Linked DNA regions of Homo sapiens. The protein of the gene in region 1 interacts with the protein of each later gene in a pairwise test. Each region holds a gene or a part of one and is shown in the gene's direction. Other genes may lie near its edges.

What was found.
Region 2: the proteins of CIC (region 1) and TRIM22 interact in a two-hybrid assay, tested with the Homo sapiens proteins (one large-scale study listed by BioGRID and IntAct).
Region 3: the proteins of CIC (region 1) and CPAP interact in a two-hybrid assay, tested with the Homo sapiens proteins (one large-scale study listed by BioGRID and IntAct).

The regions. Positions count from the first base shown.
Region 1 is NC_000019.10:42,286,183-42,289,836, forward strand, and holds part of CIC (protein capicua homolog), read left to right. Parts: exon of another isoform or gene 1-154; intron 155-588; coding exon 589-738; intron 739-823; coding exon 824-1,058; intron 1,059-1,137; coding exon 1,138-1,267; intron 1,268-1,362; coding exon 1,363-1,545; intron 1,546-1,627; coding exon 1,628-1,793; intron 1,794-2,705; coding exon 2,706-2,908; intron 2,909-2,998; coding exon 2,999-3,224; intron 3,225-3,654. UniProt on the Homo sapiens protein: Transcriptional repressor which plays a role in development of the central nervous system (CNS). In concert with ATXN1 and ATXN1L, involved in brain development.
Region 2 is NC_000011.10:5,699,636-5,703,289, forward strand, and holds part of TRIM22 (E3 ubiquitin-protein ligase TRIM22), read left to right. Parts: intron 1-3,654. UniProt on the Homo sapiens protein: Interferon-induced E3 ubiquitin ligase that plays important roles in innate and adaptive immunity.
Region 3 is NC_000013.11:24,902,304-24,905,957, reverse strand, and holds part of CPAP (centrosomal P4.1-associated protein), read left to right. Parts: coding exon 1-612; intron 613-1,899; coding exon 1,900-2,032; intron 2,033-3,654. UniProt on the Homo sapiens protein: Plays an important role in cell division and centrosome function by participating in centriole duplication. Inhibits microtubule nucleation from the centrosome. Involved in the regulation of slow processive growth of centriolar microtubules.

The DNA.
Region 1 (3,654 bases):
GTGTTTGTGGTGGGGGAGGAAGGCAAGGAGCAGGACCTCTCCCACACCACAGTTGTAAGAGACCCCACAGCCTGTGCATAGTGAACGGAGAGTTGGAGGGGAGGGGACGTGGGGCCGTATGCCTCAGGAAAGGGAAAGAGAGCATGAGGCCAAGGTGAGACGCTGTGTTGGGCGGCGACTGGGCTGCTGGGAATGTGGCATGACGGGGGTGGGGGTCCCAGCCCGTAGAGGTCTGGGGCCTTGGGAGTGTGGGATGGCAGCCAAGCATGACCTGGTTTGTGGCAGGAGCAAATCGTTCCTCTGGCCTGGTCCCTGGTGGCAGGGCTGGTGGAGATTGGTGGGGGGAGGAGTGGGGCGTGAGTACTATTTCCCTTCCCTGCTTCTGTTTTCTTTTTTATAAATCTAGAAACCTTTCAGGGAGGAGTTTTTCCTGAGTGACGTTGCATGGACGAGTCCAAGAGGCTCTGGTGTTGGGGGTGGGGGGTAGACAAAAGGGGTGGGGCTACCTCATCTAGGGTGGGGAAGAGCTTGAGTTGGGGTTGGGGCCAGGCTCTCCTGCTGCACAGCTCACCTGGCTCCTTTCCACAGTGTGGACGAATGTGGAACCTCGCTCTGTGGCTGTGTTCCCTTGGCACTCCTTAGTCCCCTTCCTGGCACCCAGCCAGCCTGACCCCTCCGTGCAGCCGAGCGAGGCCCAGCAACCTGCCAGCCACCCAGTGGCCTCCAACCAGAGCAAAGGTGAGGGCTGGTGGGGACTGGGGGGAGGCAAGGGTGTGGGGTCCAGGTGGCCTAGGAGCCCTCTGATCTACCTCTGTGTCCCCAGAACCTGCTGAGTCGGCAGCTGTTGCTCATGAACGGCCACCAGGTGGGACAGGGAGTGCTGACCCTGAGCGGCCCCCTGGAGCCACATGCCCTGAGAGCCCAGGACCCGGACCCCCACACCCTTTGGGGGTGGTGGAATCTGGTAAGGGTCCGCCTCCCACCACGGAGGAGGAGGCCTCCGGCCCCCCAGGAGAGCCCCGGCTGGACAGTGAGACAGAGAGTGACCATGATGATGCGTGAGTTCCCTGAGGCCTGGGACTTGGGGGTGGGATGGCCAGAGACATGGCCCTCACTGTCCCTGCTGCCCCGCCGCAGCTTCCTCTCCATCATGTCTCCTGAGATCCAGTTGCCTCTACCGCCCGGAAAACGTCGGACCCAGTCCCTCAGTGCCCTACCCAAGGAACGGGACTCATCTTCTGAGAAGGATGGACGCAGCCCCAACAAGGTACTTTATCCCTGCCTGTCCTGTGCTCACCCCGTGGCCACCCACACCTGTCTGCCAGGTCCTAACTGTCCCGCTCTGGGCTGTGTTTAATGCAGCGGGAGAAGGACCACATCCGGCGGCCCATGAATGCCTTCATGATCTTCAGCAAGCGGCACCGGGCCCTGGTCCACCAGCGTCATCCCAACCAGGACAACCGGACCGTCAGCAAGATCCTGGGCGAGTGGTGGTATGCCCTGGGGCCCAAGGAGAAGCAGAAGTACCACGACCTGGCCTTCCAGGTAACGCTGTTGCCTCTTGGCTCCTCCCAGCTTCTTCTGGTGGGGTGGGTGAGTGAAGGGTTGCCCTGCCCTCTCCTGCCAGGTGAAGGAGGCCCACTTCAAGGCCCACCCAGATTGGAAGTGGTGCAACAAGGACCGAAAGAAGTCCAGCTCAGAGGCCAAGCCCACGAGCCTGGGGCTGGCAGGAGGGCACAAGGAGACGCGGGAGCGGAGCATGTCGGAGACGGGCACTGCTGCTGCCCCTGGGGGTTAGTCAGCCCCTTGGCTCTCCCACCCTGCCACCTCCCTCCCCGAGAGCCACCAGCTACCCCCTTGCTTGCTCCTCCCCTGCCCCAGCAGCTCCTCTCTGCTCTATCGCTTTAATTTGGCGACCCTTATCCGTAAAGGAACCGGCAGTTGATTCATGTGACGGAGCCAGGGAGATCCACACAGATACTAAGATTCCCAAACAGCAATCTCGTTATCAACTGTTGTTTAACGAGTGTTTACTATGTGCCTGGCACTACAGGGAATATAAGCTGTAGTCTGCAAAACCCCATTCTATTTCTAGAAGAAGAAACTGAGGTTCAGAGAGGCAAAATCACTTGCTTAAAGTCATAAACAAGCAAATGACAGAGCCAGAATGTAAACCCCAGTTCGGCGGGCCCCCAGCACCATAGTTGGGGCCACTGCAGCTCGCAAACACCCCTGATGGGCTGCTTCCACTTATTGAGGTTGTCTGGTGTGCCTGGCGGTGTTCTGGGGCACATTTTTGGAGTGAGCCTATGGGTATGGCAGTTCTGTGAGGTTAGATGGATAGTTGCTATGGATATGCACTTCTATGAGAGTGGGGACACTAGTTACTTCCTCTTTGAGATGAGGGAACCGAGGCTCAGGCCAGCGGTTGGCTAGCCAGCACCACATGAACCTCTCTCCAGGCCTCCTTACTTTCAGGAGGGCTGCCCCCCAGGGAATGGGCCTGCTGCAACCCCAGAGGGCAGGAATCAGCAGGAATGAGATGCTGGACTGGTGGTGGGTGGTGGTTTTTTTTTTTCACCAAGTGGCCCAGAAATTCCAGCCTGCTTCTGCCTAGTACCTAGAAATATCTATGGGTTGTTGGGCCAGTCTAGGTGCTGGTGACAGGCTTACTGACTGTCATAGCGCCACTCTCTACTTTACAGTGTCCTCTGAGCTCCTGTCCGTTGCAGCCCAGACACTCCTGAGCTCAGACACCAAGGCTCCGGGGAGCAGCTCCTGTGGGGCAGAACGGCTACACACAGTTGGGGGACCTGGCTCAGCCCGGCCCCGAGCTTTCTCCCACAGCGGGGTACACAGCCTGGACGGCGGAGAAGTAGACAGTCAGGCGCTACAGGAACTGACGCAGGTCTAGGGTGCAGGCCCCCTAGTGGGGGTGGGCAGGGAACCTGTCCAGGGCAGCAGCCCCGCTGAACCCTCTCTGCCACCTATCCTGCAGATGGTGTCTGGCCCTGCATCGTACTCTGGCCCAAAGCCTTCTACCCAGTATGGAGCTCCAGGACCCTTTGCAGCCCCTGGTGAGGGAGGTGCCTTGGCGGCCACTGGGCGGCCCCCGCTGCTGCCCACCCGAGCTTCTCGTTCTCAGCGTGCGGCCAGTGAGGACATGACGAGTGATGAGGAGCGCATGGTCATCTGTGAGGAGGAAGGGGATGATGATGTCATTGGTGAGCATTGCAGGGCCCAGAATCTTGCCCAGGACCCAGCAGGCCAAGGCTCAGAGGGTGGGCAGAACTTGGATCCAGGCCCCTAGGCCCCTTTGTTTTCTTTTCCACTTGGTTTATGGTTGCATGTGGCCAGTTCAGGCCCTGCCGAGTAAATCCAGCCCTGCCCTCAGGAAGCCCCCAGCCCTGCAGGAAATCTGGAGGACAGGGGGCATGACCAGATCTTCAGGTGCAGTGTTAGGGGCTCTGTCCTGCAGGCTCATAGGCTCCTGCACTGGGCAGTGGGCACTGGGCATGTGGGCACAGCCCTGGGCTGAGGAGTAGCCTTCCTGGACAGCACTCCCTGCCGGTTTGGAGCAGAGCTGAGATCCAGGCTCCAGACTGTTTCTCCTGGGTCCCCCTGCATCTAGCCCCCTCCCCATACTGTTCCCTC
Region 2 (3,654 bases), on another chromosome or scaffold:
TTTATATGAGTAACAATACAAAAGCTTATAAAAAGCAATATAAAAAGTTTCTAGGTTCTTCACATCCTTGTTAATACTTGATTATTTCCTTTTTTTTTTTTTTTTTAGTTACAGCCTTTCTAGTGGGAACATAATGGTATCTCAATGCAGTTTTGATTTGCTTTTTCCTAATAACTAACACTGCTGAAAAGCTTATTATTTCCACATGTAGATTCTGTACCTTTTTAAAGAGTTTTTTCTGTTTTACTTTTGGTGCTATTGTAATTTTTTTTTTATTTCAAATTTCAATTCTTCATTGCTGGCACATAGAAAGGAAACTGACTTTAGTATTTTAATCTTGTATATTGCAACCTTGCTATAATTACTTATTAGTCATAGAAGAGTTTTTTTTTTAATGTCAATTCTTTGGCATTTTCTACATGGAGAATCATGTCATCTGAGAATAAAGTTAATTGTTTCATACTCTGCAGTTTGTATGGTTTTTTTTTTTTGGTGTATTTTTTTGGAGACGGAGTCTCTTACTGTTACCCAGGCTAGAATGTGGTGGCACAATCTCACCTCACTGCAACCTTCACCTCTCAGGTTCAAATAATTCTCCTGCCTCAGCCTCCCAGGACTAGCGCACACCGCCACACCTGGCTACATTTTTTTTGTATTTTAGTAAAGACAGGGATTCACTGTGTTGCCCAGGCTGGTCTCGAACTCTTGAGCTCAGGCAATCTGCCCGCCTTGGCCTCCCAAAGTGCTAGGATTAAAGGCGTGAGCCACCGCGCCTGGCCAGCAGTTTGTATAGTTTTTATTTGTCTTTGCTTGTTTTATTACACTAGCTAGGACTTCTAGTACAATGTTCAACAGGGATGGTGAGAGGGGATATCCTTTCCTTTTTTCTGACCTTAGGGGGAAAGTACTCAGTCTCTCACTTATAAGTATGATGTTAGCTATAGGAGTCTTTTTTTTTTTTTTTTTTTTTCAGATTTGTAATGAAGTTGAGAAACTTCCTCTTTTTTTCTTTTTTTTGAGACGCAGTCTCGTTCTGTCACCCAGACTGGAGTGCAGTGGCACGATTTCGGCTCACTGCAAACTCTGCCTCCCGGGTTCAAGCGATTCTCCTGCCTCAGCTGGGACTGCAGGCCGCCCACCACCACATCCAGCTAATTTTTGTATTTTTAATAGAGACAGGGTTTTGCCATGTTGGGCAGGCTGGTTTTGAACTCCTGACCTCAGATGCACCCGGCCGAGAAACTTCCTCTTTATTCCTAGTTTGCTGAGACTTTTTATCATGAATGGTGTGAATTTTGTCGAATAGCTTTTCTGCCTCAGTTGATATAATCATATGATTTTTCTTCTTTATTGATATGGGAGATTACATTAATAATTTTCAAAGATTGAACCAGCTTGCATACCTTGAATAAATCCCACTTACTTGTGGTGCACAATTTTTATATATATTTTGTTGGATTTGTTTTACTAACGTACTGTTGAGAATTTTTGCATCTGTGTTCATGAGAGATACTGGTTTCTGGTTTTCCTTTCTCATAATGTCTTTACTTGGCTCTGGATTAGGGTAATGCTGACCTCATAGAATGTGTTACAAAATAGTCCATCTCCTTTCATTTTCTGAAACAAATTTGGGGAGAATTTTAATAATTTCCTTCTCCAACTTTTGGTAGAATTCATCAGTTTACCAATAAAACCCACTAAGCCTATTTTTAAAGTGTTGCTTAATATTTTGGAGTATTACAGCTGTCTGTTACTGATTACTAGTTAAATTCTATTGTTGCGTAAGAAAACATTTTGTATGAGTTCAATTGTTTACATTTGTTAACGTGTATTTTGTGGTATAGAATGTGTTATAGCTTGGTTAATTTTCAATGTGAGCTTGAGAAGAATAGATATTTGCCTTTAGATGGAATATTCTATGAATGCCATTTAAATCAGTTGCTATATAGTGTGCTGTTCAGGTACAACTGTAGCGGTAATCATTTCCTGTGGCTGCTGTAAGAAATTGTCACAAACTTTATAACTTAAAACCTCATACAAAAAAATTGTCTCATAGTTCTGAAAGCTCAGAGCCCAAAATCAATGTACCAGCAACCACCAGAAGCTAATAGGGAAGCGTGGAACAGATTACAGCAGGGACCAACATTACCAATATCCTGATTTTGAACCTAGCCTCAAGAACTGTGAGAGACTAAATCTCGGTTGTTTAAAAACCATACAGTTTGTGCTGCTACGTTGTTAGAGCAACCCCAGAAAATTAAAACGCCTACCATTTTTCACTGTTTTCTATTGACCGTACTTGCTCTTTGCTTTTTTTTCCCTTCCTCTCTTTTTCTGCCCTCTTTTAACTATTTTGTATTATTCAATTGATTATTTTATATTATTCAATTTTCTTTCCTCTCTTAGCTTATTAGTTATATATTACTAATATACATCACAAATATAGCTATATTAGTTATATATAATATACATAACTAATATATATTAGTTATATATTACATATACATAACGAATATATATTAGTTATATATTACATATACATAACTAATATATATTAGTTATATATTATATATACATAACTAGTATACATAACTAATATATATTATATTATATATAGTTATATATAATATATAACTAATATGCCTAAAGGTATATATATAAATATAACTAATATGCCTAATAATATAACTAATATAACTAATAATAATATAACTAATATGCCTAAAGGTATATATATAAATATAAAACAAACATACAAATATATTTGAAATATAAAAATATTTTAAAAATATAAACTTTTTATAAATATATAAAAATATATTTTAAAAATATAAATAACACTATACATATATATATAAAGGCTTAGTGGTTTCCCTGGAGTTTGCAATATGCATTTACAACTAATCTAAGTCTAATTACAAATAACACTATACCCCTTCACATGTAGTGCAGGTACCTTAGAGCAGAGTATCCTCAATCTTGAGTAACGTTGCTGTCATTCATTTCACTTATCCATAAGCTGTAATCGCCCACTACATTGTTGATATTATTACTTTAAGCCATTATCTTATATATTAGTTGAGAATCAGAAAAACAAAATATTTTATTTACCTTTACTTCTTTTTCAGTGCTCTTTCTCTCTTTGTGAAGATCTGAATTTCAGACATATACTCTTCTTCCCCCTGAATAATGTCTTTTAACGTTTATGGCAAAGTATTTCCTTCATTATTGCGGGACAAAATTTCTGAATATAAAATTCTTGAGTCATGGGTGTTATTCTTTCAAAACTTTAATATTTATTCCACATGCTGAACTTTTACTAGTTTTAGTAGTTGTGTGTTTGTGTGTGTATATTCTTTGAGATCATTTACATACTGAATCATGCTGTCTGTAAATAAATATAGTTAATTTTAAAACTGCAACTTTTATTTTAGATACAGGGAGTATATGTGCAGGTTTGTTACATGGGAATATTGGGTGATGCTGAGGTTTGGGATACAGATCCCATCACCCAGGTAATGAGCATATTACCCAATCAGTAGTTTTTCAACTCACACACCCTCCTCCCTCCCCTAGTGTAGTCTGTAGTGTCTATTATTTCCATATTTATGTCCACGTATGCTCAATAGTTAGCTTCCACTTATAAGTGAGAAC
Region 3 (3,654 bases), on another chromosome or scaffold:
ATGAAGGTGTTCCAAATAGTGACAGTAGCACTGACTCTGAGGAACAGCTTGATGTTACCATAAAACCATCGACTGAGGATAGAGAGAGGGGCATCAGCAGCAGAGAGGATAGCCCACAAGTCTGTGATGATAAGGGGCCTTTTAAGGACACCAGGACCCAAGAAGATAAAAGGAGAGATGTTGATCTGGATTTGTCTGATAAAGATTACAGTAGCGATGAGTCTATCATGGAAAGCATAAAACATAAAGTGTCTGAGCCCTCGAGATCCTCATCCCTAAGTCTGAGTAAAATGGACTTTGATGATGAAAGAACTTGGACTGACCTTGAAGAGAATTTGTGTAACCATGATGTTGTTCTTGGGAATGAATCCACTTATGGGACGCCGCAGACATGCTACCCTAATAATGAAATAGGTATCCTGGACAAAACAATAAAAAGGAAGATTGCACCAGTCAAGAGGGGAGAAGACTTGAGCAAGTCCAGGAGGAGCAGAAGTCCTCCTACATCGGAGCTGATGATGAAATTCTTTCCTTCTTTGAAACCAAAACCAAAGTCAGATTCACACTTGGGAAATGAACTCAAGTTAAACATAAGTCAAGACCAACCACCTGGTGAGTCAGAGCATTATAAAATATGTATCAGAATGTTAGAAATTTAACATTAATCAGTATGCTGTCAGAATGCTTAAAATCCTAACTTTCCTTATTGCTCAATAGAATTAAGTCAAATTAATGGGTGATTTGTAAAAATTTGATTTATTTTATGGGTCTATATGAGGCTTTAAAATTAATTAGTTTTTAATAAAGTGAGATAACATCAAAGCTTCTACGTTTCCTTTCTTCCCCAGACCTGGTTCAAGTACCCCTTCCTAGAGGTACCAGTATTACCATTTCGTTTGTGTATTCTAAAGAGTCCGTGCATATAAAAGCATATGTGTCAGTTTGTATATAATTACCTTTCTATACAAATGAAAAGACTCTTTTTGTATACTGTCCTGCACCTTGCTTATGATAAATTTTGAAGATTGTTCTAACGCATGTACACACCTACCTCATTCCATTTAACGGATGTGTAGTATTTCTGTTGATGTAACGGACTTTTTAAACTCACCCTGAAAGATTCCTTTCCATTATATTATATTATAAACTAGCAGAGCATAGGTGCTTTAAAATAGAAATTAAAATAGAAATTATAACGTTAATTTTCAAAAATTCTGATTTTAAAAGTAATTTTTTTGTACAAAGTTTGGAAGCTTAAAAAGCATAGAAGCAAAAATATTTACAACTTAACTACCCAAAAGTAACTGCTATGCCATTTTGGGATATTTCATTCCAGTCATTTTTTCTATGTAGTTTTAATATGACAGAGTTGTATAACTTAGCTCATTTCTTTAGCCTTGTGGATCACATTTAGTTTCTAAAAAAGTACTAATTGATAAAAATGCTTGAAGGACAGAAGCACTGGCTATTTTACATTTTAAATAGCAAATTTGATAAAGGGAAAACAATTTGCATTTATTTGATTAATAGTAGGGGTAAACTTTGATTTTGGTGTTGATTAGCTCTTCAGATCTCTTGTGGATTACTTATTCTTAAGCTATTTATATATATTCGTCTTTGAAAAATTGATTTGAATGATTTCTTTTTATGTATCATGTTGATTCCTTGTCAGGTCGATACTCTTTTGAGGTAGATTAATTCTTCCATAAATTCCCACTGATTTCCTCAGGAAAGTTAGGTTTAATTTTTTTTCCTTTTCATGTTTGAAGCATTGTTTCTAATGCATTTTAATAGCACAGATGTTTGCCATATTCTTGGCTCTTAGTGTTACTAGCTAGCTAGTGTTTTTGCTGCAGTAATGCCTTTTTTGAAGTTCAGTATTTATGGCCTATTTCATAGGTGACAATGCTCGATCCCAGGTTTTGAGAGAGAAAATTATTGAATTGGAAACAGAAATAGAAAAGTTTAAAGCTGAGAACGCATCTTTAGCTAAACTTCGCATTGAACGAGAAAGTGCCTTGGAAAAACTCAGGTACGTTTGGGTCTGTAAGTTGGGAAAAAATATGCAGTGACTCAGTTATACCTTTAAGACCATCTATAAACAGTCTGAAACAATTTAAATCAGTCAAACAAATATAATTGAAAAGGAGGTGAAATCTGTATCATATAAGTTTTTTTTACTGAATAAAATGACCCAGGGTAGTCAATGATGTGTACAAAGGGGAATTTTTCTTAGTGGAGAGATCATAAATTAAAATTTGAAAAACAGTTTGGAGCTATGGTACCTTCAAGTGGTACTTTGGCTAGTTAGTGTATTGGTTTCTCTGGGCTGCTGTAACAAAGTACCAGCAACTGGGTGGCTTTAAACAATAGAAATGTATTTTCTTGTGATTCTGGAGGCTGTAAGTCCAAAGTCCGGGCATCAGCAAGGCGGGCCATGCTGGCTCCTCCAGCTTCTGGTGGTTTCAGGCACACGTTGGTATTTCTTGGATTGCAGCTACATCACTCCAGTCTCTGCCTCTGTGGTCACATGGCCATCTTCCCTCTGTGTGTGTCTTCACATGGCATTCTCCTCTGTGTGTGTTTGTCTTGGTGCCTCTTTTAAGGATAGGGTCATATTGGTTTAAGGGCCCACCCTACTCCAGTATAACGTCATCTTAACTGGCATCTTAATTGTATCTGCAAAGGCACTATTCACAGGGATTGGGACTTCAACATATTGTTTTAGAGGACACAACTCCACCTACAGCAGTCGATAGTATGACATATCGTCTCCTACCCTAGGTCATGATCTTACCTGACTTTATTGGTTAGCAAAACTTGAACTGAACTTACATGAGGCTATTTATATATGTTATATTTATTATTTCTCTCTATATAAATTTTACGTAGACATATTTTTTAATTGTACTTGTGAATAGTACTAAGTTCTGTTGCAGGAACATACTAGTACTTTTTATTCCAGGTGTTGCTCTGGGTCTTGTTGGGGATATTATATGTCACATACACACCGTATTTCTTTGTTTTTTGGTATTTGTTATTTTAATGTTTGAGGAGAAATTCATACAACTGTAGTTCCCATGGCTGCCTGCTGCGGGATGGGATCTAGGGGATGGTAGCTGCTATGCAAATGCTGAAATTCACCCAAATTTCCCAGCCTCTTTGTTCTTTAGCACTCCCCAGGATGCTGCAAGTCTTTCGTTAGTGTCCAGAGTTCCGAAGTGGTTGATTCTGACAGGTGCTGCTAGTTCAATAGCTGCTTTGGTGGAGGGACTGATTGTTGGAGCTTCCTACTCCACCATCTTCCTTAACATCTCTTCCGTATTTCTTTTCTAAAACCTGAAAAATATGAATTCTAAAGCACATCTGGCCCCTAAGTTCCAGATAAAGGTTTATAGACAGCTATTAATCCACTTAAAAAGGAAATTCGGTTACTATACTATAATCTGCAGTATGCTTAAAAATCAAATTCTGAAAATTTGTTACTTTTTAATGGAAACATCTTTGTTTTTCAGCTGATACATACTGTAAATGTATGCTTATCATAGTAGTTATGGGTAAAATGTGGAACTTATTCCAATCCGTTCTCCACCCAAGATCACTTTTAAAACGTCTCTGCTTCATTATTTCAAAACGGACATCTTTTTCTTTTAA